Linked DNA regions of Homo sapiens: region 1 is linked to region 2. The links come from fine-mapping of genetic effects on gene expression. A gene starts in region 2. The other region holds a variant in brackets. All regions are shown on one strand. Distances are between the middles of the regions.

Evidence for each region.
Region 1: its variant is fine-mapped to the expression of ISG15 in fibroblasts (GTEx, PIP above 0.99).

What each region holds. Positions count from the first base shown.
Region 1 is chr1:1,175,519-1,187,630 of GRCh38, forward strand. TTLL10 (tubulin tyrosine ligase like 10) reads left to right here. Exons shown (of 16, transcript NM_001130045.2): 4 at 3,671-3,815; 5 at 4,139-4,219; 6 at 4,516-4,822; 7 at 4,965-5,083; 8 at 5,213-5,342; 9 at 6,223-6,297; 10 at 6,843-6,928; 11 at 7,358-7,529; 12 at 8,402-8,573; 13 at 9,451-9,591. The coding sequence starts at 3,698. It overlaps TTLL10-AS1 (TTLL10 antisense RNA 1), which reads right to left and starts at 4,037. Exons shown (of 2, transcript NR_173246.1): 1 at 3,847-4,037; 2 at 1-878. RefSeq lists enhancers at 79-597, 3,653-4,152. The variant C/T (reference allele first, on the strand shown) is at 5,908.
Region 2 is chr1:1,008,391-1,020,502 of GRCh38, forward strand. It overlaps ISG15 (ISG15 ubiquitin like modifier), which reads left to right and starts at 5,107. Exons shown (of 2, transcript NM_005101.4): 1 at 5,107-5,186; 2 at 5,594-6,150. The coding sequence starts at 5,184. The coding sequence ends at 6,088. AGRN (agrin) reads left to right here and starts at 11,730. Exons shown (of 36, transcript NM_198576.4): 1 at 11,730-11,983. The coding sequence starts at 11,783. RefSeq lists enhancers at 4,770-5,189, 5,077-5,968, 5,590-5,999, 5,969-6,860, 6,160-6,219 and 1 more and silencers at 7,146-7,366, 11,044-11,493.

The DNA of each region.
Region 1 (12,112 bases), 170 kb after region 2:
ATTTGTTTTCCTCAGAGTTGGCGATCGCCTTGCTTTTCACATGTGCTTGTGTTCCCGCCTATCCTGAGCTGTCCCTGAGCTCTCTGCCTCCCGTCACCCCCACAGTCACCATCACCACAGCCCTGCAGACTGCGCAGTGTGTGGCGGGTGCTGTCCTGACATTACATGTGGAAACTCCATCTTTGCAGCAACCCTGCGAGGCTGCTGCTCCCAGCTGCTGTGCAGGTGGAGAGAGGCTGCTGTTGTGCAGGTGGAGAGGCTGCTGCTCCCAGCCGCTGTGCAGGTGGAGAGAGGCTGCCACCGTGCAGGTGGAGAGAGGCTGCCGCTGTGCCGGTGGAGAGGCTGCTGCCGTGCAGGTGGAGAGAGGCTGCCGCTGTGCCGGTGGAGAGGCTGCTGCTCCCAGCCGCTGTGCAGGTGGAGAGAGGCTGACGCTGTGCAGGTGGAAAGAGGCTGACGCTGTGCAGGTGGAGAGGCTGCTGCTCCCAGCCACTGTGCAGGTGGAGAGAGGCTGACGCTGTGCAGGTGGAGAGGCTGACGCTGTGCAGGTGGAGAGAGGCTGCCGCTGTGCAGGTGGAGAGACTGCTGCTCCCAGCCGCTGTGCAGGTGGAGAGAGGCTGACGCTGTGCAGGTGGAGAGAGGCTGACGCTGTGCAGGTGGAGAGAGGCTGCCGCTGTGCCGGTGGAGAGGCTGCTGCTCCCAGCCGCTGTGCAGGTGGAGAGAGGCTGACGCTGTGCAGGTGGAGAGAGGCTGACGCTGTGCAGGTGGAGAGGCTGCTGCTCCCAGCCGCTGTGCAGGTGGAGAGAGGCTGACACTGTGCAGGTGGAGAGAGGCTGACGCTGTGCAGCTGGAGAGAGGCTGACGCTGTACAGCTGGAGAGGCTGGGGCACACAGTCATCAGGTCAGCTGCAAGCTCACAGCTGCTGCATCTTTTCCCTGACAGCTCACTCCTGTGAGAGTCTTCCAGGCTTCCCGGAGGGACGGATGTCTCCTCACCTTTTCCCACCTCCACACCTTTTCCCACCTCCACACCTGGTAGGCCAGGTATGGAATTCCTGGAATTCCCGGCTGGGAGCCTCCTGGGCCGGTTCCAGCCCTGTGTGTCCCCAGGAAGGCTGGAGGGCTGCTAGTGGCCTCGGTGGGCACCCAGGGCTGGCCAGGACCACACCTCCTTCCTCCGGCTCTGTGCCTGTATCTCCCCGGGCCTCCCCTCTCGCCTGGGGCTCCACGGTGACCCTGCTGTGCGGCACCTCGGATTTACACCCACAGTCCCATCCCCAGGGTTCCCTTCTGGGCAGTTTCCTTGACTTAAATCCCAACCCCGGTGTTGCATTTTTAATTCCCACCGGCTCTTTTGTATTCTCTGTGCCTTTGCTTTAAAAGCACGCGGCTCTCTGAGGGGTCCTGTCTCCATCACCCCAGCCTTTTCCAGGCTGGTTTGTTTCCCTGTTTCTCCCCTTTTCTCTTCCTCTGTGTGCGTCTGTGTGTCTGTGTGTCTACATGTCTGCGTGTCTGTGTGTGTCAGCGTCTGTGTGTGTGGGTGTCTGTGTGTGTGTGTGGGTGTCTGTGTGTGTGTCTGTGTGTACGTGTGTGTGTAGACGTGTCTGTGTGTAGGTGTCTGTAGGTGTGTCTGTGCATGTTTATAGGTGTGTGTGTGCATGTCTGTAGGTGTGTCTGTGCATCCATGTGTCTGTGTGTGTAGGTGTGTCTGTGCATCTGTGCAAGTGTCGACATGTCTGTGTGTGTCTGTGTGTAGCTGTGTGTCTGTGCGTGTGTGTGTGTAAATGTGTCTGTGTGTCATTCTTTTTTTTTTTGAGACGGAGTCTCGCTCTGTCGCCCAGGCTGGAGTGCAGTGGCACGATCTCAGCTCACTGCAAGCTCCACCTCCCAGGTTCAAGCTATTCTCCTGCCTCAGCCCCTCAAGGAGCTGGGACTACAGGCGCCCAACACCATGCCCGGCTAATTTTTTGCATTTTTAGTAGAGACAAGGTTTCATCATATTAGCCAGGATGGTCTCAATCTCCTGACCTCATGATCTGCCCGCCTCAGCCTCCCACAGTGCTGGGATTACAGGCGTGAGCCTCCGCGCCCGGCTGTCCTTGTGTCACTCTTCTTCACACTTGGGAGTCCCTCTGATGATGCCTGTTGGGCCTGGGCAGCCCCTTTGGCTGAGAGTCAGTACTTTAGAGGATCCCCTTCCCCAGCAGGAATCCTGGGTGCTGAGGGCCCATGAGAAGGAGCTGAGGTCTCCCATTTAATGCAGAGTCTTGCACGCACACACCTGCTCCGTGCCTGCGCAGGGTCCAGCCTCTTCCAAAAGTCCTCCTGTTCTGGGTGGGGAGGGGTCTCAGGGCTCCTGACTTCTTCCATTCTTGCCCAGCCCACCCTAGGAAGAGGGCGTGAGGCTCTCCCAGACACAGGTGGGGGGCCCAGCCTGTGTTCCGCTCCTCCCTGAGGACGGGTCCCAGTGGCCCCACCCGACTGGGTCATCGTGCAGACGGCTGCCTCAGTTTCCCCACCTTCCCCTGCCCGTGGGCTTCCTCGTTGTCTCCTTCCCTCCTGTCACTCAGGCGGGGCAGGGAGGGGCAGACACAAAGGCTTCCTGCGGGTGAGATTGGTGCCGAGCTCTGTGCCCAGCCTGGAGCCTCAGGCCTACCCCAGCCTTCTCCAGCCTCAGAGCCCCCACAGCCTCTGCCCAACACTGCCGTGTGCTCCCCTGTCTCCTGGGCGAGTTCCTTCAAACCCTTGAAAGCCCTCACCTAAGCCGGGCACAGTGGCTCACACCTGTTATCCCAGCACTTTCAGAGGCCGAGGCAGGCGGATCACCTGAGGTCGGGAGTTTGAGACCAGCCTGACCAACATGGAGAAAACCCATCTCTACTAAAAATACAAAAAGTTAGCTGGGCATGGTGGTGGGTGCCTGTAGTCCCAGCTACCTGGGAGGCTGAGGCAGGAGAATCGCTTGAACCTGGGAGGCAGAGGTTGCAGTGAGCCTAGATCGCCCCATTGCACTCCAGCCTGGGCCACAAGAATGAAGCTCCGTCTCAAAAAAAAAAAAAAAGTTCTCACCTCCCAAGCAGCCCCAAGATGGGTTTGTTTGCTGGAGACAGAGGTAGAAAGATCTGTCGAGGAACTGGCTGAAAATTCCTAAGTTGCAACATGGGAAGGTGTTGCTGGAGACAGTGTCCTGGGGGTCGGGCCTGGCACCCAGGGGCGGCCGCAGAGGAACCCTGATGGCAGGTACCAGGCGGCTGCACACAGCCCACAGCTGGGCTCCGGGGTCAGCAGCGGAGACAGAGAAGACCCCTGCTCAGGCCAAGGAGCCCTCCCACCCTCCATTCTTCAGGCAGGCGCCCCACCCAGCAGGCCTGACGCTGCCCCTCCTTCCAGCCGGCACCCAGGCCGAGCTCAGCCACACCTGAAGAGCCGCTCCGGCCAGGGAGGACATGCCCGGCAGAGACAGGGTGCAGAGACAGCCTCGCCCCCACACGGCGCCAGGCCCCACAGCTGCCACAGAGACGGGAGCCAGCCGCACGCAGAGGCTCAAGCCCACGGCCCTGGGAGGCGCCCTTTCCTGGGCAGGGTGGGCCTGACTGCCTGCTCCATCCAAGCACTGGGGCCTCGGGCCGCGCGGAGGTCCCACAGGAGGGTCAGAGCGGCATCTTCCCTTCAGGGCCCTCGCCCGGGCACCCCCCGGCCAATGGACCACAGCTGCACCCGGTTCATCCACCGCCGGGGACCACCCACTCGGACCCGAGCCGGCTTCAAGAGGGGCAAGAGGCCAAGGATCCAGCAGAGGCCTCGGGCTCGAGTCTCAGGTGAATAGAGCAGCCCTGGGTGGCCTCCTACCTCTCCAAGGCCAAGGCCTCCCTGGGACGGGTGCCCCATACCCAAGGAAGTCAGTCGGCCTCATGGGGCAGGGGCAGGATCCACACATGGCCATGCCCCGCTGCTCCGAGAGAGGGGCCAGCTGTGGGCGCCGGGCTCTGCAGGCACAGAGGGGAGCTGTCGCGCTCCGCGGCCCAGGGTTCCGCCTGGCTGGCACCACCCCTGGAAGGGCAGCCCCTCGTCTCCCGGCCTGACAATGGCCCCTTGGGTCACCCATGACATCATCATGGACATTGTGACCCCTGCCCTCCAGGGACCATCCCTGCGTCACGTCTGCACCCAGCACCGGCCTCACAGCCCGGCCCCTGCCCTGCACCAGGCCACTGCCCTGTTGGTGAGGAGGGTCGGAGGGGCGACCTCCCTGCCCCCTGCTCCAAGCTCCCCACCCCCACCTGGAACCTGCCGGCAGGAAGCCTGGCCCTGGAGGGTGGTCACGGCCCCTCCCCAGATGTAAGCAGTCCCCAGGCCGCCTGGTGGGGCCAGAGCTCGGGCTGAACTTGAGCCCCAGACGGGCCAGGGGGATTGTCCAGGGTATTGGAGAAATGGGCTGGGAGCAAACTGGCTGAGCCATGTCCGGGCTGAGTGGGCAGCTCCCGTAGCCACCCCGGTGGGACCCCACCCCGTTCACAGGCCCGGCCCACGAGAGGCCAATGGGGAGCAGCCAGGAGGAGGGACTCCGGTGTCAGCCAAGCCAGCCAGACCACGACGCAGATGGACACTGTGGGCCGGACCTGGAGGGGGCAGAAAGAGCCTCTGCCACACCCGGACCCCCTGGGCTCCTGAACAGCCACCGGCCTGCAGACTCGGATGACACTAACGCCGCCGGGCCCTCAGCTGCCCTCCTGGAGGGGCTCCTGCTGGGGGGTGGGAAGCCATCGCCCCACAGCACCCGGCCGGGGCCCTTCTTCTACATTGGAGGCAGCAACGGGGCCACAATGTGAGTAGCGGCCCTGGGCGCCCGTGGTCCCACTGAATACCCACCGCCTGCTCCCGGGGCCCAGCCCGGCCTCCGCTGGCCGCCCGCCATCCCCAACCCCTTGCCTCGGCCCCCAGGTCACCCCCGCCCCCACCCCTCGCAGCATCAGCTCCTACTGCAAAAGCAAGGGCTGGCAGCGCATCCATGACAGCCGCCGGGACGACTACACGCTGAAGTGGTGTGAGGTCAAGAGCCGAGACAGCTACGGCAGCTTCCGGGAAGGTAGCGGGAGCCGGCACCAGAGGCGGGCAGCCTGCAGGGGCCTCCTGGGCCGGAGCACAGGGCAGGTTGGAGGGGTGGGGACCGAGGTCCTGCGCTCCCTCCACACGAGCCCTGGCCTCTGACCTCCAGGAGAGCAGCTGCTGTACCAGCTTCCCAACAACAAGCTCCTCACCACCAAGATCGGGCTGCTCAGCACCCTTCGGGGACGGGCACGGGCCATGAGCAAGGCCAGCAAGGTGCCGGGGGGGGTCCAGGCCAGGTGAGTCTGCCCCTGCCCCTGCCCCCGTCCCTGCGCCCGCCCCTACGCCTGCCCCTGCCCCTGCCCCTGCACCCGCCCCACCCCTGCCCCTGCGCCCGCCCCTGCCCTTGCCCCTGCCCCTGGCCACCCAGGCTCCCAGGCTGGCTCCAGCCCCTGCCCCTGCCCTTGCCCCTGCCCCTGGCCACCTGGGCTCCCAGGCTGGCCCCAGCCCCCACCCGTCAGCACCTGCCTCCACCTTCCACCTGTCCTTTAAAGGGCCAAACCCCTGTCCCATAAACCCACCCTCTTCCTCGTGGCTGAACGGGGAAGATCCCACACGTCCCCAACCCACTGGGCCTGACACCCACCCACCTGTCCATCTCACAGACCCACCCAGGTACAACCCACCTGTCAATCTGCCTTCACCCCAAACATCCATCCAATCCATCCACAATCCCACACCGTGCCCACCGTCACCTGTGGGTGCCCTGAGTGAGGCCGTCCATCGCTCACCCAAGTCTGGGCCATCCATCCTAGCGACTTCGTCCTCCTGCTCCCAGCCCTGCCCACTGCCCTTCTATGGACC[C/T]ACCTATCCCTCCTCACTTCATTTGGCCCAGACATTTTTGCACCAAGCACCCGCCCAGCCAACCGCAGCTGCCTCCATCTGCACCCCCCGCCCCTGGTTGCCTGTGACACCAGCTTTACACCATGTCCAGCGTCCACTTCCAGCCTAGAGCAACACAGCTGTTTCCCCCAGGCACCGCCGTCCACCCAGCCACCTCCTTCCACCACAACTCACAGTCCGCCCACTCACCACCCATGCCCCATCCCCCAGTCCCCACCCGCTCCAAGCACCATGAGCTGGCCCCTCAGTCCAGGCCCTCTGTCCCCTGGGCTGCAGGCTGGAAAAGGACGCAGCAGCGCCCGCCCTGGAGGACCTCCCGTGGACAAGCCCAGGATACCTCAGGCCACAGAGGTAGACTCAGCCCAGCTGTGAGGGGCCCTTCAGACCGAAGTTCAGACCTAAACCTGGTGTCGTCTGAAAAGGAGAAAGCGGGGCGGGGGTCCCACACAAAGGAAAACCACGAGCTAGAGTCAGAGGTTCAGCCAGGCCAGGCCGAGATCCACGCTGACCCCCCAGTGCACACAGAGCTGGGGCAGGGCCAGGGGCTCAGGCCACGCTCTCCGCCCATCCCAGCCGTGAGGACACTGCCATGAGGTGGTGGCTCACAAATGGCTGAGACGGTGCCAGCCGGGAGAGCAACCATGAGGGAAAAAGCAGCCAGCGGGAGGGGCCCGGGTGGGGGTCAGCGGCCAGAAGGATGCAGCCAGCAGCACAGCCCGTTGGGGGGGTGCTGCAAAGGGGCAGGAAACGCAAAGTCCCCACAAGGAGAACGGCCGCGGGCGCCAGGTGCCACTGCCCACACTCCCTCCCGCCGGGCCACAGGCTGGGCCTCAAACCGCCCACCCAGCCAGGGGCGAAGGGACAGCAGCTCATCCTCCTGCCTCCCTGCCCTGCAGGGTCCTGAGAATGGAAGAGTTTTTCCCAGAGACCTACCGCCTGGACCTCAAACACGAGAGAGAGGCCTTTTTCACCTTGTTTGATGGTGAGACGCTGCTGGCCGGACACCAGGCTGGCCCTGGGGAGACAGGGTGAGGGCTGGACCAAGGCGGGGGCTGATGAGGGCAGGGCTGGGTCTGGAGGGGCTGCGTGGGGCTGGGACGAGACGAGGTGGTCAGGAAGGGGCCAGGGCTGGGCCTGGTCTGGGTGGGGACTGAGGAGTTGGAAAGGGGAGGGTCTGGCCTTCGTGGAGGTTGGGGTATGAGGGCACTGGGGCCAGGGCTGGAGCTTGGTCCGGGTGAGCGTGGTCGAGGCACGGGCAGGAGCTGGGGCCAGGCGTGTGGTTAGCGCAGGGCCAAGGTTGGAATGGCCGGGCCGAGGGTCGCAGCCTGGAGGGGAGGGTCCTGGTCGGGCCCTAGGAGGGGCGTGGCTGGGTTGGGGGCGAGGCCAGGGGCTCAGGCCGCGCTCTCTGCAGAAACCCAGATATGGATCTGCAAGCCCACAGCCTCCAACCAGGGCAAAGGCATCTTCCTGCTCCGGAACCAGGAGGAAGTTGCCGCCCTGCAGGCCAAGACCCGGAGCATGGAGGACGACCCCATCCACCACAAGACGCCGTTCCGGGGGCCTCAGGCGCGGGTGGTGCAGAGGTGCGGCGGCGGGTGCCCGGAGGGGTGAGGGTCTGGGCTGGCTGACCCGGGCCCCACTGGTGCAGTCAGCAGGGCCGCCGAGGAGCCCTTGGTCGTGGAAAGCAGCCGCACCACCAGCCCCTGTGCAGACCACAGCCGGGCCCCCGTGTAGCCAGCAGAGGGGAGGGGTCACACCAGGCCGGGGTCACAGACACAGGATCCAGGGTTGAGGGGTTAGTCAGTTTGTCCTTCAGCTGGGGCCCCCTCTGTCCTGCAGGTGGCCTGGCCTGGGTGGCCTCCCGGCTGCCAGCCCCCCTACTCCCCGGCCCAGCCAGCCAGCTGCAGCCTTCAGGCCTATGGCCAAGCTGACCACTCCTTCCCTGAGTGGGAAGGCTTCCTCCAGAAAGCCCCGTGGCTGCACGAGGCTGAAGGTTTAGACCTGTCGACCTCACCCCCGGCCCTCGTAGAGCCTCACTCTGACCACAGCTGCCGTCTGCCGTCCCCAGCTTCCATCGGCTCCTCCCTCGCGTCCCTCCACCTGGCGAGCTCTCCGCCTGGCGCACCCCCTCTGCCTGCTGTGCTCCCTCTGCCTAGCGCCCGCCTGGCGCGCTCCTTCCCTTCCTCTCCAAAGCCACCTTCATGCCCTCCTCCTCCAGGCAGCCCTCCAGGCTCCTACTGCGGTTATGCCCTGGAGCACCCATCAGGGTGCCAGGCCTTTCCTCCCAATTCCCCTGACATATTCAGGCCCAGAAATGCCCCCTTTCCCTGGAGGTCACACCTGGGACAGAGGCGGGGCGCTGAGGAAATGGAACAGGCCCGGGGTGGGGTGTGAGGGGATGCAGGCCAGGCTGGCCCCGTGGCTCAGCCCAGCAGCCCCGACATGGTGCCCCCAGGTACATCCAGAACCCGCTGCTGGTGGACGGGAGAAAGTTTGACGTGCGCTCCTACCTGCTCATTGCCTGCACCACACCCTACATGATCTTCTTTGGCCACGGCTATGCTCGCCTCACCCTTAGCCTTTACGACCCCCATTCCAGCGACCTCGGCGGCCACTTGACCAACCAGGTGAGTCTGCCATGGGTGAGGGCCCTCCCTGCAGCCTTGGGATGAGATTAGAAGGAGGTTCTCACTGCTAGGGGGTGCAGAGGGGGTGCAGCTACAGAAGGAGGTGGCCCAGGCCGGGAGGTGTCTCAGGCCTGGAAGTAGCCTGGGCTGCCCCCGCTGGCAGTGAGCACTGCCTCTCACCTCCCGCTTTTGGCCACGTCAGAAGAAGGGCGTGGCAGGGACCCCGTTAGCTGGTGAAAGGGCTCAGAGCCCTGTAGCCCTCAGCGTGCAGCCTGGCTCCCAAGCCGCAGCTGAGTTTTCTGAGGATGGGGTGCGGGTGGGCGTCGGAACCGAGGGGATTCTGAGGCTGTCAGAGGAGGGGCCCTGTGGGCAGAGATTTCTGGGGACGGGTCTTCATGGGAGAGTCCAGGGTAGGGACCTTCTGAGAAGATCTGTGGGGTCCTCACGGCTGAAGGGGGGTCTCAGCGGATGAAGGTTTTTGTGGGAGGGTCTTTGCAGGCAGGTCAGGGTGGGGCCGGGGGAGCAAGGTTAGGGGCGGCTGTCTCAGGGACCCCCAGAGAACAGGCCTTCTAGGTTAGGGGGATGTTCTCTTGGGGACCCCCGTGAGGACAGGCCCTCCGGACAGTCTGGGAGCCAGTCTCCAGGCACCGTGTGCCCCCAGTTCATGCAGAAGCCTTCTAGGTTAGGGGGATGTTCTCTTGGGGACCCCCGTGAGGACAGGCCCTCCGGACAGTCTGGGAGCCAGTCTCCAGGCACCGTGTGCCCCCAGTTCATGCAGAAGCCTTCTAGGTTAGGGGGATGTTCTCTTGGGGACCCCCGTGAGGACAGGCCCTCCGGACAGTCTGGGAGCCAGTCTCCAGGCACCGTGTGCCCCCAGTTCATGCAGAAGAAGAGCCCTCTGTACATGCTGCTGAAGGAGCACACGGTGTGGAGCATGGAACACCTCAACCGCTACATCAGTGACACGTTCTGGAAGGCCCGGGGCCTCGCCAAGGACTGGGTCTTCACCACCCTCAAGGTGCGTCCACTGTGCCCTCCAGTCTGGGAGTGAGATCCCTCGGGGCGGGGGTGTGTGGTCAGGCTGGGCACCAGGCACACAGATGTCCGTGGCGTGCGTGGGCGGCTGCGCTGAAGTGTGACCTGACCGTGTGGAACCAAACCCTTCCAGCGTCTCTGCTCACTTAGCTGGCAGTGCCTGTCCCCAGCAGCCAGCAAAGGCCCGGACGGAAAGCCCAGTCGGGGGTCTGTCGGCACGAGTCCCGCGGGCAGCCTCGCCGTAGGGTCAGGGGACAGCTCGGCTTCAGTGACAGCCACCATGTGAAGAGTCTTTGTTCCTTTCAGATCCTCCACTTGGCAGGCAGGGCCAACAGCAGCCCCCGGGCCAGGTGTCCTGGAGCAGCAGCAGCTGCCCGTGCAGGCCCGGACTCTCCCTAGCTAAGGGCCATGTGCGGTGGAGTGTCCTAATTTTGCAGGGTTCCTTTCTGTGGGGGTACCTGTGGGGTACTTCAAACAGCCCTAGCAGCAAAGGCCCTTGAGCAGCGCGGTGTGAAACTGGGATAAAAACGGGGCTTGGCCGAAGGACTTTTATCTGTCTTGGTCACCCCGGCCAGGCCCCGGAAGCAGCAGCCAGGGATGGTCCTTCCTCACCCACAGGCGTGTGTCACTGTGGCTGGGACGGCAGCGCTCAGAGGAGCCTCCAGTTACTTTCCTCACATCTCCCAAACTCTCTCTTAATTGCGATAATTCACAGAACATAAAATTCACGATCTTAAAGTGTGCAGTTCAGTGGCTTTTAGTATTTCAAAAGTTGTGCAATTATCACCACCAATTCCAGAACATTTCATCACCTCAAAAAAGAAACACTACTAACGAGCCATCACAGCTACATTGCCGGCCATTCCTGGTCACCGCTGATGGACCTTCTCTCTCTCTCCTGTCTCCTTTCTCTTACCGTGGTGTTTTCAGGGTTCATCCACGTAGTTCACGTATCCTTTTCTTTTCTTTTTTTTTTTTTTGAGACAGAGTCTCACTCTGTTGCCCAGGCTGGAGTACAGTGGCACAATCTCAGCTCACTGCAACCTCCACCTCCTGGGTTCAAGCAATTCTCCTGCCTCAGCCTCCCAAGTAGCTGCAACTACAAGTGCCCGCCACCACGCGCGGCTAATTTTTGTATTTTTAGTAGAGATGGGGTTTTGCCGTGTTGGCCAGGCTGGTCTCAAACTCCTGACCTCAGGTGACCCGCCCGCCTCAGCCTCCCAAAGTGCTGGGATTACAGGCGTGAGCCACTGCACCCAGCCATGTATCCCTTTCATACAACGTTCCGTCATATGGATGGACCATATTTTGCCATCAGCTGGTGGACACAGTTTTATTATTGAGCTGTTATGAATAATGTTGCTATAAATATTCACACAAAAATGTTTGTATGAATATATATTTTCAGTGCTCCTGGGAAAATACCCAGGAATGGAGTCGTGGGTCACAGGGTGACACACTTAACTTTCTGAGGAACCAGGAATCACTTTTCCAGTTTCTCCAGATCTCGCCAACACTTGTTATTTTCCTTTCTTTATTAAAGAATCACCATCTGGTCGGTGTGCAGGGATATCTCATTGTGGGTTTGATTTCCATTTTGCTAATGACAAATAACTTCATGTGTTCACTGGCCAGCTATGTATATTCTTTAGAGAAATGTCTATTCAAACGCTGTGGCTGTTCTTTACCATCCAGTTGTGAAAGTTTTTTTTGTTTGTTTTTTGTTTTTTTTTTTTTGAGACAGAGGCTCGCTCTGTCGTCCAGGCTGGAGTGCAGTGATGTGATTCTCGGCTCACTGCAAGCTCCGCCTCCCGGGTTCACGCCATTCTCCTGCCTCAGCCTCCCGAGTAGCTGGGACTACAGGCGCCCGCCACCACGCCCGGCTAATTCTTTGTATTTTTAGTAGAGACAGGGTTTCACCGTGTTAGCCAGGATGGTCTCGATCTCCTGACCTCGTGATCTGCCCGCCTCGGCCTCCCAAAGTGCTGGGATTATAGGTGTGAGCCACCGCGCCCGGCCAAAAGTTCTTTACATATTCTAAACACTAGGCCTTTATCAGACATATGATTTGCCAATATTTTTCTGGAATATTGTGGCTGTCTTTTCACTTTCTTGATAATGTCCTTTGACCACAAAAGCTTTTAGTTTTGATGAAATCCAGTTTATCCATTTTTTTCCTTTGGTTACTCATGCTTTTAGTATCATATCTAAAAATCCATTGTGCCAGGTGCGGTGACTCACGCCTGTAATCCCAGCACTTTGGGAGGCCATGGTTGTTAGATCACCTGAGGTCAGGAGTTCAAGACCAGCCTGACCAATATGGTGAAACCCCATCTCTACTAAAAATATGAAAATTAGCCAGGCGTGGTGGTGGGTGCTTGTAGTCCCAGCTACTTGGGAGGCTGAGAAAGAAGAATTGCTTGAACCCGGGAGGTGGAGGTAGCTGTGAGCCAAGATCGTGCCACTGCACTCTAGCCTGGGCAACAGAGCAAGACTCCATCTCA
Region 2 (12,112 bases):
CTTCCTTTTACTTAATATTTGTGTGGTATGCTTCTTTCCATTGCTTGATGTTCAAACTTGCTGTGTCTTTATGTTTCAGATGATTCTTGTCTCTGGAAGCCACACAGAGCCAGTTGTTTGTTTTGTTTGTTTGTTTCTTTCTTTCTTTTTTTGAGACGGAGTTTCGTTCTTGTCCCCCAGGCTGGAGTGCAATGGCACGATCTCGGCTCACTGCAACCTCCGCCTCCCAGGTTCAAGCAATTCTCCTGCCTCAGCCTCCCAAGTAGCTGGGACTACAGGTGCCCACCACCACGCCGTACTCATTTTGCCTTTTTAGTAGAGACGGGGTTTCACTGTGTTGGCCAGGCTGGTCTTGAACTCCTGACCTCAGGCGATTCACCCGCCTTGGCCTCCCAAAGTGCTGGGATTACAGGTGTGAGCCACCGCGCCCGGCGTTTTGTTTCATTTTTATTTTTGAGACACGGTCTTGCTCTGTCGCCCAGGCTGGAGTGCAGTGTCGCAATCTCGGCTCACTGCATCCTCCGCCTCCCGGGTTCAAGCCATTCTCGTGCCTCAGCCTCCCGAGTAGCTGGGACTGCAGGCGCCCACCACCACGCCCGGCTATTTTTTTTTTTAGAGGTGGGGTCTCACTATGTTGCCCAGGCTGGTCTCAAACTCCCAGGCTCAAGCGATCCTCTAGGCTTTGCTTCCAAAGTGCTGAAATTACAGATGTGAGCCACCATCTGACAATCTTGGTCATTTAGTCCACATGAATTTTGGGCTTTTGGCCTGGAGAACTACGAGAGAATACATTTCTGTGGTGTGAAGTTTAACACCCAGTTTGTGGTACATTGTTCAGCAACCCCAGGAAACTAAAGCAAGTGACTGCAGGTCTGGTCACCTTCCTCGGTGCCTGTGCCTGGGGTTGGTTCTGTCGAAGCAGGAAGACAACTGGCAGAGATGGGATGAAGTAACCAAAAGGAAAGGAAGATTCTAGCACCGTACGTCAGCATTAAGAAATCAGGAAACGGGCCGGGCGCGGTGGCTCACGCCTGTAATCTCAGCACTTTGGGAGGATGAGGTGGGCGGATCACGAGGTCAGGAGATCGAGACCATCCTGGGTAACACGGTGAAACCCCGTCTCTACTAAAAATACAAAAAATTAGCCAAGCGTGGTGGTGGGCGCCTGTAGTCCCAGCTGCTCGGGAGGCTGAGGCAGGAGAATTGCTTGAGCCCTGGAGGCGGAGCTTGCAGTGAGCTGAGATGGCACCACTGCACTCCAGCCTGGGCGACAGCAAGACTCCGTCTCAAAAAAAAAAAAAAGAAAAGAAATCAGGAAACATATACCATGTTTAACAGGGCATCTAAAATGATAAAAATAAATAGAAAATCCTGGGTTTTTTGTTTGTTTTGCTTGGGTTTGGTTTGGTTTTGAGACAGGGTCTCGCTCTGTCACCCAGGCTGGAGTGCAGTGGTGCGATCACAGCTCACTGCAGCCTCCACCTCCCGGGTTCAAGCTATCCTCCCACCTCAGCCTCCAAAGTAGCCAGGACTACAGGTGTGCGCCACCACGCCCGGCCAATTTTTTTATGTATTGCAGGGACAGGGTTTCACCATGTTGCCCAGGCTGGTCTCAAACTCCTGGGCTCAAGCCATCTGCCTGCCTCGGCCTCCCAAAGTCCTGGGACTGTGGTGTTTGTTTGTTTGAGACAGGGTCTTGTTCTCGTCGCCCAGGCTGGAGGGCAGTGGCGCGATCTCAGCTCACTGCAACCTCCACCTCCAGGGCTCAAGCAATTCTCCTGCCTCAGCCTCTCGAGTAGCTGGGACTACAGGTGTGAGCCACCACACCCAGCTAATTTTTGCATTTTTAGTAGAGATGGGGTTTCACCATGTTGGCTAGGCTGGTCTTGAACTCCTGACCTCAAGTGATTTGCCCGCCTCGTCCTCCCAAAGCGCTGGGATCACAGGCGTGAGCCGCCACCCCGCCTCCTCTTTGGTTTTCAGATGCTGACAATTTTGGTGACCCCTGAGATTTGCTGGGAGACGGGGAAGGGCCAGGATTCATATTCAGAATATGTTGATTTTTCACTCTTACACTTGTTTATTTAAAAATTATTTATTTATTTATTTGAATCTTATTTAAATATTTTATTTATTTGTTTATTACTGAGTCTTAGCTATCCTTCTCTTGTTATGTGCTGTGTGTAACAACAACAATTTGGGAACAGCCTAAGTATTCAGTGATGTGGGATGGGTTTTAACTAAATTAACTCTGTACTGTAACAGGCTCATTCTTCCATGGGAAACATGCAGTTGTTAAAACAACCTGCACAGATGCGTCCACCAACACGGATAGATGCGTGTTTTTGTTTTTTGGGTTTTTTTTTTTTTTTTTTGAGACAGGGTCTCGCTCTCTCACCCAGGCTGGAGTGCAGTGAAGCGATCTCGGCTCACTGCAGCCTCCGCCTCCCAGGCTCAAGTGATTCTCCTGCCTCAGCCTCCCAAGTATCTGGGATTACAGGTGCCCACCACCACGCCCAGCTAATTTTTGTATTTTTAGTAGAGATGGGGTTTCACCATGTTGGCCAGGCTGGTCTCAAACTGCTGACCTCAGGTGATCTACCCGCCTCGGTCTCTCAAAGTGCTGGGATTACAGGTGAGCCACTGCGCCCGGCCCATGCCCAGCTAATTTTTCGCATTTTTAGTAGGGACGGAGTTTCACCATATTGGCCAGGCTGGTCTTGAACTCCTGACCTCAGGTGATCTGCCTGCCTCGGCCTCCCAAAGTGCTGGGATTACAGGCGTGAGCCCCTGTACCTGGCCTTTTTTGTTGTTGTTGTATTTTTAGTAGAGATGGGGTTTCGCCATGTAGGTCAGGCTGGTCTCGAACTCCTGATCTCAAATGATCCTCCCGCCTCAGCCTCCCGAAATGCCGGCATTACAGGCATGAGCCGCCTGGCCTGGATAGATGTTTATGATACACTGTTGCATGAATGAAGCAGGTTACAAAACAGTGAAAGTATGGTGAGGCCTTTTCACCTTTGCTTTTTATTGATGTGAAATTCATATAACATAAAACTAACCATTTTAAAGAATGAAATCCAGTGGCGTTTAGTTATTTACCACGTTGTCCAACCATCACCTCTGTGGAGTTCTGAAACATTGTCACCCCCAAAGGGGCTTGTGGCTCTGAAGCAATCACCCCCCACTCCCCCTCCCTGGCCCCCGGTAACGGGGTCGGCTTCCTGTGCTGCGGCTCTACCAGTTCCGGTCGTTTCCCCTGCGGTGAATGGAACCAACACTCTGCGGCCTTCGTGTCTGGCTCTTTCCACTTAGCATAACGTTTTCAAGGTTCTTTCACATGAATCAGTGCCTCAGTCCTTTTCATGGCTGCATAATATTCCGTTGTGTGGACATTCCACACTTTGTGTGTCCATCCATCACTGATGGACATGTGCTCCGTTCCTGCTACTTGTTTATTGTAAACTGTGCTGCCATGGACATTTGTATGCAAGTATTTGAACACCTATTTTCAATTCTTTTGGACACATGCCTAGAAGTGGAACTGCTGGGTTCCCAATAATTCTGTTGAACGTTTTGAGCATCGCGGCGGCCGCACTGTTTTACATTCTCAACAGCAATGCATGTACCAGGATTCCAGTTCCTCTATGTATTCCCCAGTGCTTGTTACTGCCTTTATGTTTATTTTATATTATTTTTTGAGACTGTCTTGCTCTGCTGCCCAGGCTGGAGTGCATTGGTGCAATCTTGGCTCACCACAATCTCTGCCTCCTGGGTTCAAGGGATTCTCCCGCCTCAGCCTCCCAAGTAGCTGGGATTACAGGCGTGCACCACCACGCCCAGCTAATTTTTGTATTTTTAGTAGAGATGGGGTTTCTACTAAAAATGTTGGCCAGGCTGGTCTCAAACTCCTGACCTTAGGTGATCCGCCCGCCTCAGCCTCCCAAAGTGTTGGGATTGCAGGCGTGAGCCACCGCACCCGGCCTGGCCTTTATTTTTATTATTACAGTCATACCAGCAGGAAATAGCATCTCACTGGGGTTTTGATTTGCATTTCCCCAATTAATAATGATGTTGAACATCACTTTACAGCCGTTTCTATGTCATTGGAGAAATGTCTATTGAAGTCTTTTGGCCATTTGAAAATTGAGTTGCCTTTTTTTTTTATTTTTATTTTTTATTGAGTTGTAAGAGTTCTCTATATGTCCTGGATGCTATGCCCTCATCAGATAGATAATTTGCAAATATTTCTTCCCATTCTATGGATTGTCTTTTCACTTTCTCAATAGTGTCCCAGAGTTCATTTTTGTAGAAAATAAAAGATAGGTCTCTTTTATTAAAAAACAATCTGAGGCTCCGGGTGCAGTGGCTCACGCCTGTAATCCCAGCAGTTTCAGAGGCCGAGGCAGGTGGATCACTTGAGCCCAGGAGTTCGAGATCAGCCTGGGCGACATGGCGAGACCCCCATCTCTACTAAAAATACAAAAAATTAGCCGGGCCTGGTGGTGCACCCCTGTGGTCCCAGCTACGTGGGAGGCTGAGGTGAGAGGATCGCTTTAGCCTGGCAGGCGGAGGTTGCAATGAGATGAGATCGTGCCTCTGCACTCCAGCCTGGGCGACAGAGTGAGAGACCCTGTCTCAAAAACACAAAAACAACAACAAAAAAACACCAATCTGAGCAAATACTGCCCTAAACCGAGTGTTGTTATCTCTGGGTAGTTTGGAGTTCTTGTTTCTCAATTAACCATGGGGATGTTTTCCAAGTTTACTAATTTTGCAAGTTGGTAAATGGAAAATGAAACCATTAGTCCATGTGATGACAGCTTTAGTGCATCCTGTGAAGGATCTGGAATGCGCGATATTTAGGTGTTTCCAGGGTGTTGGGTGGGGGTGGGGATGCCGTCCGCTGTCCGGAGTCCCCGCCACTTTTGCTTTTCCCTGTCTTTCGGTCATTCGGTTTTGTTTCTTCCGCTCACTCTGGGGCATGCCTCGGGAAAGGGAAACCGAAACTGAAGCCAAATTTGGCCACCAGCGCAGGCTCGGCGGCACGCCCCCTGACGTGTGTGCCTCAGGCTTATAATAGGGCCGGTGCTGCCTGCCGAAGCCGGCGGCTGAGAGGCAGCGAACTCATCTTTGCCAGTACAGGAGCTTGTGCCGTGGCCCACAGCCCACAGCCCACAGCCATGGTAAGGCAGATGTCACAGGTGGGGGGAGGTGGGCTCTGTGCCAGCCAATTTTCGTCTCCCTCCCCCAGCCAAGGTCTCCCAGGGGTGCAGGGAGAGCGGAGCTGCTCAGAGCTTGGCCAGGTTCTAAGTGTGCTCCTGAAAGCAGGTCACCCCTGAGATCCTCAGGGTGGGGCACAGAGGGGCACCCTAGCAGGTAAAGGGAGGCCACGGGATGGCGGTGGGCAGCTGGCCTTCTAGTAACGAGCCCTCAGTGCCTTCTGTGCCTGGGGTCCCTGCCGGCGGGATGTAGAGGACAGACAGGAGGGAGCACTGTCCCTGGGTACAGGAGCTCGCCCTGCAGCCAGTGCCTTGTGTGTGGTGGGCCTGGGGCTGGCGCCGCAGTCTCTGAACCTGTGTGACGCCTGCAGGGCTGGGACCTGACGGTGAAGATGCTGGCGGGCAACGAATTCCAGGTGTCCCTGAGCAGCTCCATGTCGGTGTCAGAGCTGAAGGCGCAGATCACCCAGAAGATCGGCGTGCACGCCTTCCAGCAGCGTCTGGCTGTCCACCCGAGCGGTGTGGCGCTGCAGGACAGGGTCCCCCTTGCCAGCCAGGGCCTGGGCCCCGGCAGCACGGTCCTGCTGGTGGTGGACAAATGCGACGAACCTCTGAGCATCCTGGTGAGGAATAACAAGGGCCGCAGCAGCACCTACGAGGTACGGCTGACGCAGACCGTGGCCCACCTGAAGCAGCAAGTGAGCGGGCTGGAGGGTGTGCAGGACGACCTGTTCTGGCTGACCTTCGAGGGGAAGCCCCTGGAGGACCAGCTCCCGCTGGGGGAGTACGGCCTCAAGCCCCTGAGCACCGTGTTCATGAATCTGCGCCTGCGGGGAGGCGGCACAGAGCCTGGCGGGCGGAGCTAAGGGCCTCCACCAGCATCCGAGCAGGATCAAGGGCCGGAAATAAAGGCTGTTGTAAAGAGAAATGGCCGCCTCTGTGTCTGTGCTTGCCCCTCCTCCAGCGTCCGCCTCAGACCCCTGGTGATGGGGCGGGAGAAGTCAGGAGGGAGAACCCAGGGTCCATCCTGGTGACCAGGCCTGGGCTGCCAAGTGAAGGGATAAGGGTTTGCAGTTACAGCTTCGAGGGATCAAAATAGGGAGCCCCCCACCCCGAAACTGAAGTAAGACAGCTCTCCCCACCCTTTGGGAAATTAACTTCTAGGAAAAGAAAAAGAGACACAGTTGCTGGAGCCCATCCTGCCTGTCCTCCATCTGGGACAGCAGACGGCTTAGGCAGGGACCCGCCTGATCAGATCAAAAGGGGAGGCTCCCAGTGGGCCCCTGGGAGCAGTAAGGGGTGAGTCCTTGGGGCCTGCCCGGTGGGCTGTGAGGCAGGCTCTCCATAGGAACTGGGGGCTGGGGACCTCAGCCGTCCCTAGCCCAGCCTACACAGCCTGCTCCACCTGCCTGGGCTGGGCTAGGGAGGGGTAGAGACAGGTCCTGAGCACTCACATCACCACTGGGGCCAGCTGCAGAAGACAGCCTGGGTGGCTAAGTACACCCCCTCAAGGCTGTGCGTGAAGGAGGGGCCGTGGCCAGCAGTGGAGGGCACCTGGAGTTGGGGCTGACACCGTCCAGGAAGCAGAGCTTGTCCCAGGTGGGGGGCCCCCAATTCAGTACAAGCTACAAGCTACACCCCTTCCCCCACCCATGCACCCTTCTCTGTCTCTCCTATTCCAATTTGCTAAATGAGTCTCCTAGAAGCCAGCTGTTGGCCGGGAAGCAGGGAGGACGGGGCACGGATGTCGGCTGGGATGCAGCGAGGACGGGGCACAGAGGGACATGCAGAGTCCGGACTCTGGGCACTTGGGCCTCAGCTTTCAGAGCCCTCGGGAGGATCCGGCTGGAGACACAGAGTCCCCCCTGGTCTGTGGGGGTCCATATCCAGGTGGGGAGACCCCCATCTGGCTGCACCAGGACCACTGTGTGTGCCCGCATGTGCCCAGCAGGGGGTGTCCTGGCTCCAGCCTTGTGTCCGGGTCCCCACCTCACCCCTGTGTCACAATGGGCGAGTGAAGCACTTAGCCAGGGGCCTTTCCTGAACCCCCAACGGGGGCAGGGCAGGGCAGGGCCTCCTTTGTGGCTTCTGGCTCAGAGATCTGTAGCTAGCCTGGGGTGAGAGGGGCACCACAGGCCCAGTCCTTTTTATTATTATTTTTTTTGACACGGAGTCTCGCTTTGTCGCCCAGGCTGGAGTGCAGTGGCGCGATCTCTGCTCACTGCAAGCTCCACCTCCCGGGTTCACGCCATTCTCCTGCCTCAGCCTCCCGAGTAGCTGGGACTACAGGCGCCCGCCACCACGCCCGGCTAATTTTTTTTTGTATTTTCAGTAGAGGCGGGGTTTCACCGTGTTAGCCAGGATGGTCTCGATCTCCTGACCTCGTGATCCGCCCATCTCGGCCTCCCAAAGTGCTGGGATTACAGGCGTGAGCCACCGCACCCGTGCTTTTTTTTTTTTTTTTGAGATAGAGTCTCACTCTGTCGCTCAGGCTGGAGTGCAGTGGCGCCATCTCGGTTCACTGCAACCTCCACCTCCCGGGTTCAAGCAATTCTCCTGCCTCAGCCTCCCAAGTAGTTGGGATTAATGGTGCCCGCCACCTCACCCAGCTAACTTTTTTTTGTGTTTTTAGTAGAGACAGCGTTTCACTGTATTGGCCAGGCTAGTCTCGAATTCCTGACCTCATGATCCGCCCGCTTCAGCCTTCCAAAGTGCTAGGGTTACAAGTGTGAGCCCCCGCACCCGGCCTAATTTTTGTATTTTTAGTAGAGATGGGGTTTCATCATGTTGGCCAGGCTGGTCTTGAACTCCTGGCCTCAAGTGGTCCGCCTGCCTCGGGCTCCCAAAATGCTGGGATTACAGGTGTGAACCACTGGGCCTGACTGACCCAGTCCTTTTTTTAAAAAAATTACTTACTTTTCCCAGGGTCATACTCTCAGCTAGGCTGGAGTGCAGTGGCACAATCACCGCTCACCGCAGCCTCCACCTCCCACACTCAAGTGATCCTCCCGCCTCAGCCTCCCGAGGAGCTGGGATTACAGGTGCGTGTCACCACACCTGGCTAATTTTGTATTTGTTTTGTTTTGTGTTTCTTTGAGATGGAGTTTCGCTCTGTCGCCCAGGCTGGAGTGCAGTGGTGTGATCTCGGCTCACTGCAAGCTCCACCTCCTGAGTTCAAGCGATTCTCCTGCCTCAGCCTCCTGACTGGCTGGGATTACAGGTGCGTGTCACCCGGCTAATTTTTTAGTAGAGGCAGTTTCACCATGTTGGTCAGGCTGGTCCCGAACTCCTGACCTTGTGATCCACTCCCCCCTTGGCTGCCCAAAGTGCTGGGATCACAAGCGTGAGTTACCGTGCCCTGTCTGTATTTATAGTAGAGACAGAGTTTCACCATGTTGGCCAGGCTGGTCTCGAACTACTGACCTCAAGTGATCCGCCCACCTCGGCCTCCCAAAGTGCTGGGATTACAGGCCTGAGCCACCACGCCCGGCCCGTCGACTAATTTTTTTTTTTTGAAACAGTCTCGCTCTGTCACCCAGGCTGGAGTGCAGTTGCACTGTGTCCAGAATTGGTGGGTTCTTGGTCTCACTGACTTCAAGAATGAAGCCACGGACCCTCGCGGTGAGTGTTACAGCTCTTAAGTCGGCGCGTCTTCAGTTCGTTCCTTCTGATGTTCGGATATGTTCGGAGTTTCTTCCTTCTGGTGGGTTCGTGGTCTCGCTGGCTCAGGAGTGAAGCTGCAGACCTTGGCGGCGAGTGTTACAGCTCTTAAGGCAGCGCGTCTGGATTTTTTGTTCCTCCCGGTGGGCTCGTGGTCTCGCTGGTTTCAGGAGTGAAGCTGCAGACCTTGGCGGTGAGTGTTACAGCTCATAAAAGCAGTGTGAACCCAAAAAGTGAGCAGTAGCAAGATTTATTGCAAAGAGCGAAAGAACAAAGCCTCCACTGTGTGGAAGGGGACCTGACCGGGTTGCCACTGCTAGCACCGGCAGCCTGCTTTTATTCTCTTATCTGGCCCCACCCACATCCTGCTGATGGGTAGAGCCTAGTGGTCTGTTTTGACAGGGCGCTGATTGGTGCATTTACAATCCCTGAGCTAGACACAAAGGTTCTCCACGTCCCCACCAGATTAGTTAGATACAGAGTATCCACACAAAGGTTCTCCAAGGCCCCACCAGAGTAGCTAGATACAGAGTCCACTGGCACATTCACAAACCCTGAGCTAGACACAGGGCGCTGATTGGTGTATTTACAAACCTTGAGCTAGATACAGAGTGCCGATTGGTGTATTTACAATCCCTGAGCTAGACATAAATGTTCTCCAAGGTCTCACCAGAGTAGCTAGATACAGAGTGTCCACTGGCGCATTCACAAACCCTGAGCTAGACACAGGGTGCTGATTGGTGTATTTACAAACCTTGAGCTAGATACAGAGTGCCGATTGGTGTATTTACAATCCCTGAGCTAGACATAAAGGTTCTCCAAGGCCCCACCAGAGTAGCTAGATACAGAGTGTCTGTCTATTGGTGCATTCACAGACTCTGAGCTAGACACAGGGTGCTGATTGGTGTATTTACAATCCCTGAGCTAGACATAAAGGTTCTCCACGTCTCCACCACTCAGGAGCCCAGCTGGCTTCACCCAGTGGATCCCGCACTGGGGCTGCAAGTGGAGCTGCCTGCCAGTCCTGCGCTGTGCACCCGCACTCCTCAGCCCTTGGGTGGTCATGGGACTAGGCACGGTGGAGCAGGGGGCAGCGCTCATCGGGGAGGCTTGGGCCGCACAGGAGCCCACGGAGGGGGTGGGAGGCTCAGGCATGGTGGGCTGCAGGTCCCCAGCTCTGCCCCGCCGGAAGGCAGCTAAGGCCTGGCGAGTAATCGAGTGCAGCGCCAGTGGGCTGGCACTGCTGGGGGACCCACTACACCCTCCGCAGCCGCTGGCCCGGGTGCTAAGCCCCTCATTGCTCCGGGCCGGCAGGGCCGGCCGGCTGCTCCAAGTGCGGGGCCCACCAAGCCCACGCCCACTCGGAACTCCAGCTGGCCCGCAAGAGCCGCGCGCAGCCCCGGTTCCCGCTCATGCCTCTCCCTCCACACCTCCCTGCAAGCTGAGGGAGCCGGCTCCCGCCTTGGCCAGCCCAGAAAGGGGCTCCCACAGTGCAGCGGTGGGCTGAAGGGCTCCTCAAGTGCCACCAAAGTGGGAGCCCAGGCAGAGGAGGCGTGAAGACCGAGAGAGGGCTGTGAGGACTGCCAGCACGCTGTCACCTCTCAGCACCATCTCAGCTCACTGCAACCTCCGCCTCCTGGGTTCAAGCGATTCTCCTGCCTCAGCCTCCCAAGTAGCTAGGACTACAGGCGCCTGCCACCACACCGGCCAATTTTTGTATTTTTAGTAGAGACGGGGTTTCACCATGTTGGCCAGGCTGGTCTCGAACTCCTGACCTCCCGTGATCCACCTGCCTCAGCCTCCCAAAGTGCTGGGATTACAGGCGTGAGCCACTGCGCCCGGCCCATCCAGCTAATTTTTAATTTTTTTGAGAGATGGGGTCTTGCTATTTTGCCCAGGCTAGTCTCGAACACCCGGTGTCAAGAGATCTTGCTGCCTCCGCCTCCCAGAGTGCTGGGATGACAGGCGTGAGTCACCACGCCCAGCCTAGACACAGTTCTGAAGGGACAAAGGGGGCCTCCGCTCCCTCCTTTCAATCTTCAGCTAGGCCAGGCTCCCACTTGGGTCCTCCAGCCCTCAGTTTCCCCCTGCACCCAGCCAGGCCAAGCTGCAGAGGCGCCCGGCCCAGAGCTGGGAAGGGGCGTGGCGGGACCCGCGCTTGCAGCCGCGGGACGGAAGGGGGCGCGAACCTCCCCGCGGCGGGGCCTGGGGGGGCGGGGCCGGGAGGGGCGGGGCCGCGCCCCGTGCTGGCCAATCAGCGCCCGCCCCGGCACCGGGACCCGCCTCCGCGCCGCAGCTCCCGGGGGGTCCGGCCCGGCCGAGCCTCGGTGTCCGGCCCCGCGGGGGAGGGGCGCGGCCTGCGGAGCGGGATCGGGGCCGGGTCTGGGGCCCCTCCCGGCGGCCTTCGAGCCCTGCCGCCCGGCTCCGCGCCGCCCGGAGCCCCTCGGCAGTCCCGTCACGTCTCCTCCAGATTAGGCATTAACTCGGGTGCAGCCGCACTTCCGGGGGGCCGCGGCGGGGGAGGGGCGCCTGCGGGATCCAGACCCGCCCCCCACTCTCCTCTCCCCGCCCCCTCCCGGGCCGCCCCTTTCCCGCCCCACGGCCGCGCCGGGCGCTGCGTCCCGGGGCTTTGTTCGCGGCGGCGCGGGTCGCCGGCCTCCGGGCGGGCCGGGGGAGGGAGGAGGGAGGGGGCGGGAGGGGGAAGGAAGGAGGAGGGGGAGGAGGAGGGCGCGGGGAGGGGGTAGGGGGGCGGGGAGGAGAGAGGGGGAGGGGCGCCGCCCTGGCCCCGCCCCCCCCCGCCCGCCCGCCCGCGCTCCGCCGCCTCCGGAGCTGCGTCCCGTCCTGTCCAGTCCCGTCCCCGGCGCGGCCCGCGCGCTCCTCCGCCGCCTCTCGCCTGCGCCATGGCCGGCCGGTCCCACCCGGGCCCGCTGCGGCCGCTGCTGCCGCTCCTTGTGGTGGCCGCGTGCGTCCTGCCCGGAGCCGGCGGGACATGCCCGGAGCGCGCGCTGGAGCGGCGCGAGGAGGAGGCGAACGTGGTGCTCACCGGGACGGTGGAGGAGATCCTCAACGTGGACCCGGTGCAGCACACGTACTCCTGCAAGGTGCGCCCACCCGGACCCCGGCCTCCCCTCGCGACGCCTGCCGCCCCGCCGGGACCCCCGCCCCAGGCCGTGGGAACCAGCCCCGGTCGCTCCGCAGCCCCCGCTCCGGCTCCCTTGGCGACCGCCAAG